2 linked regions of the Homo sapiens genome follow. The protein of the gene in region 1 purifies or fractionates together with the protein of each later gene. This does not show direct contact. Each region holds a gene or a part of one and is shown on either strand. Other genes may lie near its edges.

What was found.
Region 2: the proteins of DNAJC1 (region 1) and GRAMD1B purify together in Homo sapiens (co-immunoprecipitation; one large-scale study listed by IntAct). This does not show direct contact.

The regions. Positions count from the first base shown.
Region 1 is NC_000010.11:21,759,254-21,762,748, reverse strand, and holds part of DNAJC1 (dnaJ homolog subfamily C member 1 precursor), read left to right. Parts: intron 1-3,130; coding exon 3,131-3,495. UniProt on the Homo sapiens protein: May modulate protein synthesis.
Region 2 is NC_000011.10:123,601,200-123,604,853, forward strand, and holds part of GRAMD1B (protein Aster-B), read left to right. Parts: intron 1-2,226; coding exon 2,227-2,342; intron 2,343-3,654. UniProt on the Homo sapiens protein: Cholesterol transporter that mediates non-vesicular transport of cholesterol from the plasma membrane (PM) to the endoplasmic reticulum (ER).

The DNA of each region.
Region 1 (3,495 bases):
AGTCCCAGCTGCCCAGGAGGCTGAGGTGGGAGGATCACTTGAGCCCAGAAGTTGGAGGCTGCAGTGAGCTATGATCACACCACTGCACTCCAGCCTGGGTGACAGAGCAAGAGCCCCATCTCAGATAAATAAGTAACACTTTCTATTTAGTTTGCAAGAACAAATGATTGGCTTGGGGAAGATTTTTATGAAAATGTTTTCATAATTTGTATTGCACAATGAATACCAGAGCATGGTAAACTTGGCCAGCAGGACGCTACATGTGGATAGATGTATCCTTTTGGGTCATCTTTTCCAACTAGGATGGCCATTCAAAGTTAGGTGCCAAAATAAAGCAAATTTGGAGCCAGACCTTTAATTGAGTATTTTATCCAGTATTAAGCAATTTTTCAATCTCATTGTTTTTAATATTAATATTTTCATTAGAATGTTTCATGTCACTTAATGATGTTTTTAGATTGTGGTGGATATAATTGAATAAGTAAATATACATATATTAGAATTGCATTTTCGGCTGGGCGTGGTGGCTCATGCCTGTAATCCCAACACTTTGGGAGGCTGAGGCACTCAGATCACGAGGTCAAGAGATTGAGACCATCCTGGCCAACATGGTGAAACCTCGTCTGTTCTATAAATACAAAAATTAGCTGGGCATGGTGGCGCGTGCCTGTAGTCCCAGCTCCTCGAGAGGCTGACGCCTGTAGTCCCAGCTACTCGAGAGGCTGAGGCAGGAGAATCACTTGAACCCAGGAGGCAGAGGTTGCAGGGAGGCAAAATCGCGCCCCTTCACTCCAGCCTGGTGAAAGAGTGAGACTCCATCTCAAAAAATAAAAATAAAAAAAAATTGTGTTTTCAAAGATGTTTTATTGATGGGGTTCATAATAAAAAATATGGAGGAGATAATGATTATGAAATGCCACTTGTTAGTAGTAACAAAAGACTAGGACCTGGAACTTTAGTGAGCTAATACAGAATAACCTCCAGGGAGTTTGTTGCCATTAACGTAAGAAAGGAGAAGGCTAATGCAGCTACATAGGGTGTGTGACACTGTTTCTAGACGTTCACACACTCACACTCCAACTCATTTTTGCCTCTTACAGAGCAGACCAGGAATGCAGACTAAGCCACTTTTCATTGTATTCCTTTTTGTAGTTTTTATATTTTTAAAAATTATATCTAGATTTTTTTTTTTTTTTTTTAGACGGAGTCTCACTCTGTCGCCCAGGCTGTGGTACGATCTCAGTACACTGCAACCTCTGCCTCCCAGGTTCAAGCGATTCTCCTGCCTCGGCCTCCTGAGTAGCTGGAATTACAGGCACGTGCCACCACACCCGGCTAATTTTTGCATTTTTGTAGAGACAGGGTTTCACCATGTTGGCCAGGCTGGTCTCGAACTCCTGACCTCAGGGGATCCCCCCTGCCTTGGCCTCCCAAAGTGTTGGGATTACAGGCGTGAGCCACCGTGTACAGCTGGGATTTTGTTTTTTATTAAATAAAAGCCTACTATAAAGAGGAAACATTACTGTAGAAAAGGAAATAAAATATTGCCCCCTTTTTTGTTGTTGTTTTGAGACAGAGCAAGACTTTGTTTCCCAGGCTGGAGTGCAGTGGCACAGTCTTGGCTCACTGCAGCCTCTGCCTCCTGGGTTCAAGCGATTTTCATGCCTCAGCCACCCAAGTAGTTGGGATGACAGGCATGCGCCACCATGCCCAGCTAATTTTTTGTATTTTTAGTAGAGACGGGGTTTTGCCATGTTGCCCAAGCTGGTCTGGAACTCCTGGCCTCAAGTGATCCACCTTGCCTTGGCCTCCCAAAGTCCTGGAATTACACGCTTGAGCCACACTGCACCTGGCCTAAAATACTGCCTCTTTGTAGCTAAATTTGTATATACATCTGTAATTATTTCCATAGGAGAACCTCCTCTAAGTAAAATTACAGAGTCACAAGTAAATACATTCTTAAGGTTCACCTCCATTTGACAAATTGTTCTTTAAAAAGGCTAGACCTGTGCTGTCTAATATGGTAGCCACTTGCCACATGTAGCTATTTATATTAAAGTTTAAATTAATTAGAATTAAATAAAGTTAAAAACTTAATTCCTCAGTACTACACCAAGTGGTTTATATAATTGTATCACAGCATGTTTCATTGGACAGCTCTGGGCTGGGCCAGTTTCTGCTCCCACGCCCCGTGTCCAAATGTACCTATTTCCCTGCATTTTGCCAGCACTGGGTATTGTCATACTTTCTAATCTTTGCCAATTTAATAATTGAAAAGTAGTGATTCTTTGTTTTAGTTCTCTGATACTCATCAGCTACTGTAGTTCTTCCTTTGTGAGCTGTGTTCTTTGTCCTTTTATCTTAATGAGTTGTAACTGCTACTGTATTGAGGATATCAGTGCTCTGTCATCTATTCTGTCCTATTAAAAGGTTTAAAGCTTTTGTTATTAATTATTATTACTTTTAGAGACAAGATCTCATTCTGTTGCCCGGGCTGAAGCACAGTGGCGTGATCATAGCTGACTGCAGCCTCAAACTCCTGGGCTCAAGCAGTCCTCCCTCCTTAGCCTCCCTAGTAGCTAGGAATACAGGTGTATACCACCAGGCCCAGCTAATAAACTTTTTAATAAAATGTTTCTTTTCCATGTTTAAAAATTCTTACTGTAGCTACTATTTGTAAGTGTATAATTTACTCATACACTTGCCTTCCAGAGGCAGCACAGTTTTAAGGTTTGACCAGTTGATTTTTGTCTTTCCAGTGGAGCCAGTGAATCCTTTCTTATACTGAGTAGCAGGTTATTCCCTCTCAAAGAGATGTTTGCATTCTTGTTCACAATCTGATTCTTTATATACCCATTATTCCTCAGAGTAGAGAAAGGGACAAAGGCTTGGAATCAGACAGAAGTGGGTTCAAATCCCACTCTAGTGCTTTCTGAGTCTTCTTTTTCTCATCTGTAACATTAGGGTAATGATCCCTATCTTTCTAGAATAGAGTAGTGTGGAAATGAAATTAAACCATGCATGCAAAATGCCTAGTGCGCTGCCTGCTCTGTGCCCGGCAGCTGCTGTTCTCACCGTCTCCTTAATTCACCTTGCCCTTCACCTCTGTGTGGCACACCCTCTTTCCTAGGAATGGTTAGACTCTCCGAACTCAAATCGACAGTTCAGAATTCCAGGCCCATCAAAACGGCCACCACCTTGCCCGATGACATGATCACCCAGCGAGAGGACGCAGAGGGGGTGGCAGCGGAGGAGGAGCAGGAGGGAGACTCCGGTGAGCAGGAGACCGGGGCCACTGATGCCCGGCCTCGGAGGCGGAAGCCAGCCAGGCTGCTGGAGGCTACAGCGAAGCCGGAGCCAGAGGAGAAGTCCAGAGCCAAGCGGCAGAAGGACTTTGACATAGCAGAACAAAACGAGTCCAGCGACGAGGAGAGCCTGAGAAAAGAGAGAGCTCGGTCTGCAGAGGAGCCGTGGACTCAAAATCAACAGAAACTT
Region 2 (3,654 bases), on another chromosome or scaffold:
TCAGCAAGGCCCCAGATGCCACAACTTAAAGTACAGAAAATGTAGTTAACACAGCCACCACGAATTGACTAGTTGAGTGTTTAAATGAAACTATGAAGAGACACAGATGAAGCCACCCCTTCATGCAGTGAGCTGTGATTGCGCCACTGCATTCCAGCCTGGATGACAGAGCAAGACCCTGTTTCAATTAAAAAAAAAAAAAGTTCCCACTCAGATGCAGTTGGATGTTGAGAAACTGTCTCCAAGCCAGAGAAAGAGATGTAGGAGAAAACGCACCGACACACACACATAATGTTTCCCCCAGGATTAATTTTTATGTGTGTGTGTGTGTGTGTGTGTGTGTGTGTATGATTGACATGGGTGTATTTAAATATATACATATATTGGCCTTGACTCTAGCCCAAACAAATGGCTGCATAAGAAAATTGAGTGGATTTATTATTTAGAGTTTCTTCTCTTCTGAGAGTCTGTACCCCTAGTATCACTCCTGATAACTTATTTGAGCTGTGGTCCTCTGCCTTCACTTGCCATCAGTAATAGTAAAATGATTATGTGTTTTAGTCTCTACTGGCAGGTTTGAGTTTTCAGTTCACAGCTGCTGTCATTTTTAAGTAAGACACAGGGTCATTCATATGCTTCGCAAATGCCCTCACAAATAATTGTAAGAATTGGGCCTGCCGAGGAGAGTCTGCTAACTGTGCTTGTCCTGATCGTGGTTGGCCAAGCCAAGCCAGGTGGCGCTGGTCAGAGAAGTCTGCAGAGAGCAAGCAAAGGGTGGAGCAGGGCAGTATATGGTTTGGCAGAGAGGCAGATGTGTCCCAGGCAGGGTGAATGTTGTCCCAGGCAGGGTGGATGTTGCACATAAAGGCCAGAGATAGGAGGGGGAGGTCCAGGAGAGAAGGAGGTGATACCTCCCTCAGGCACTATGAGGTCCAGCATAGAGAGCTGCGGCCCCCAACTCTGCCAGCCTAGAGTCAGGGCCCCAAATCTGCCATTCCAGGCACTTCTCCTTAGTCAGAAAGCTGGAATCCTAGCTCATTGTACTCTGCCAGCTGCCTGCTTCTTAAACCATACCTGAAACTGTGGGCTTGGGAGCTCTCAAATTATTATTATTATTATTATTGTTATTTTTACTCCCAATGGAATATTGTTCAATTTTTATTTTTTATATTTTTAAATTTTTTTATTATACTTTAAGTTTTAGGGTACATGTGCACAACGTGCAGGTTAGTTCTATGTGTATACATGTGCCATGTTGGTGTGCTGCACCCAAATTCTTTAGGAAGTCTATCGGTGCAAACATTTTTGAAATGGGATTTTTTTTTTTAAAGATAATGATTGCTTCTGTTTTTCTTCATGCCCTTGCCCTCCTTTCCACACACTTATCCCTGCCACCTTCTCCCCTTCCTCCCAGTCTGAGACTCATTCATGGTCTCTGCCTCTGATCTTAGTTCTTTGACATCCCTTTGCCTCTCTCTGGAGACTCTGAACCCAATGAGAACAAACTTTTCTTAGAACAGTGTTTTTTTGGGAGGACACATAGGCACCCGGTGAAATAAGAAAACACTGGAACTAATGCATAGAACTGCAGGCAAACAGATTCCACCTCAGGTTGGGTAGTCACACGCTTAGGTGAGATGACCTGTAAGGTTCCTAAAACTGTGGGAACGTAAGACTCTACCCATAGGAACTGTCCAGCTATGGAATGGGCCACCTTTGAGGTCGAACCTCATTCTTGGAAGTGATCCAGTAGGGTCTGTAAGGCCACAGTTAATACAAGAGGAGATTTCTGTGCAGTGTGGTGGGGCACCGGGTCAGGGGACCTCTGGGCATTCATTCAGAGTGCTAATCAGAAGCTCTGGGATCCCCTTGGCCCCAGAGTCACATGGGTTTATGCCACTCAGTGCTGGACCTTTTCCATAAGAGCAAAAGGTGAGACAGTTACCATCCTCTGGGAGCCAGTTGGTCACGTTCTACAAACCTCTGTTGAGGGATTGGGCACTGAAAGGCCAGTTCCTGGCTTTGTTAAAGTCCACATTCCTAGGCAGAAGACTGGTGTCCTGCTGAGACCCCCAAGGCAGATGGGGGTGGTGGCTCGCCTCTCATTCAGCTAAGGAGAGAGGAGTTTCTCCTCTTCTCCAGGGGAACCAGCCCGGCTCAGTGCCTCTGTGCAGAGTCGGGGGACCTGAGGGAGCAAGGCTCAGTCGTTCCTTTTCTCCCCTGAAGCCTCTGTGTCCCAAGGAGCTCTGGCACTTTGTTCACCAGTGCTATGGGAACGAATTGGGCCTGACCAGTGATGACGAGGACTACGTGCCCCCTGACGACGACTTCAACACAATGGGGTGAGTGAGGCCAAGGGCGGCTGCCCAGAGGCAGCCGTGCGAGTGCCTGCAGGAAGAACCTGCCAGGCAGAGGGAACAGCACACATGCCTGTGCAGCCATGGAATGAACTGTGGAATGAAGGAGGGAAAGTGGTCACAGGTGAGGTCAGGGAGCTCGAGGGGGCAGAGCCTAAGGGCCTGGCCATCTTTATGGTTGGCTTTTACTGAGAGTGGGATGGGAAAGTTTGGCAAAGATAATTGCTAAGGTCTGATTTAACATTTCAGCAGGATCACTCTGGTCTTTGCACTGAAAATACATTAAAGGGGAACCAGGGCAGAGGCAGGGAAACCCGTGAAGAGGCTGGTGAGTAATTTAGATAGTTAGATGAGGGATGGTGGTTGTTTGGAGAAGTGGCAATAAGTGTTTAGTTCCTGAATAGATTTTGAAGGATATGTTGATGGAACAGAAAGGAACCAAAGGTGGCTTTCAGATTTTTTCGGTTTTACTGCCCAGAAGGATGGCATTGTTCCAAACGGAGATGGACAGTACTGTAGGCAAAGCAGGTTTCAGGGGAAAGATCAGGAGGGTAGTTTTAGGCAAGTTGAAATTGAGATGCCTGTTAGCTAAATGGAGATGCCAAGTGGGCATTTAGATATGGAGTGTGGAGTGCACAGGGAAGCCTGGGCTGAGGCCATAAACGCAGCAATTATTAGTGGATAGTCATGAGACTAGCTGAAATTTCAAGTGACTCGGTGAACCTAAAAAGGAGTTCAAGGACTGCCTGGGAGCACTCAGTGAGGGAAAGAAGCAGCTGAAGAGAGCTTGAAAGCACATGCAGTGAGGGAGGAAGGCCCTAGGAAGGTTTCCTATCCTGGCAGCCACGGGAAGGAAGTGAAGCAGAAGGTATTGTCACTGTATCACATGCTGTCGATAGGTTAAGCAAGATGGGAAGATGTGCCTGTAGACTGGCACAAAGCATGCTTGAGGGTGGAAGGGTAGCTAGCTGCAAGCTTGGTGGTCGTGCAAGAGGCATACAGGGAAAAAAGCAAGAAAAGAACATTGAATGTCTGTTGTGCTTAGGTCTGGGCTCAGTCGAAATAATAGTGTTGTCGCTTAACCTCTATGAATACCCATTTGGTTATCTCCAAAATGCACATAAGGATTTCCGGAGAGTTGTCAAGCATCTGGATTTGTTAAGTACAGGTCAGATGATGGTGATGATGATAGGCTGATGATTGCTCCCTTAGAGGAGGCTACAGCGGCATCCCTGAAGTGTTCCTCGACGAGCACCCACCTTCATCTCAAGGAGGTTTTCTTTCTAGGTGTATAATG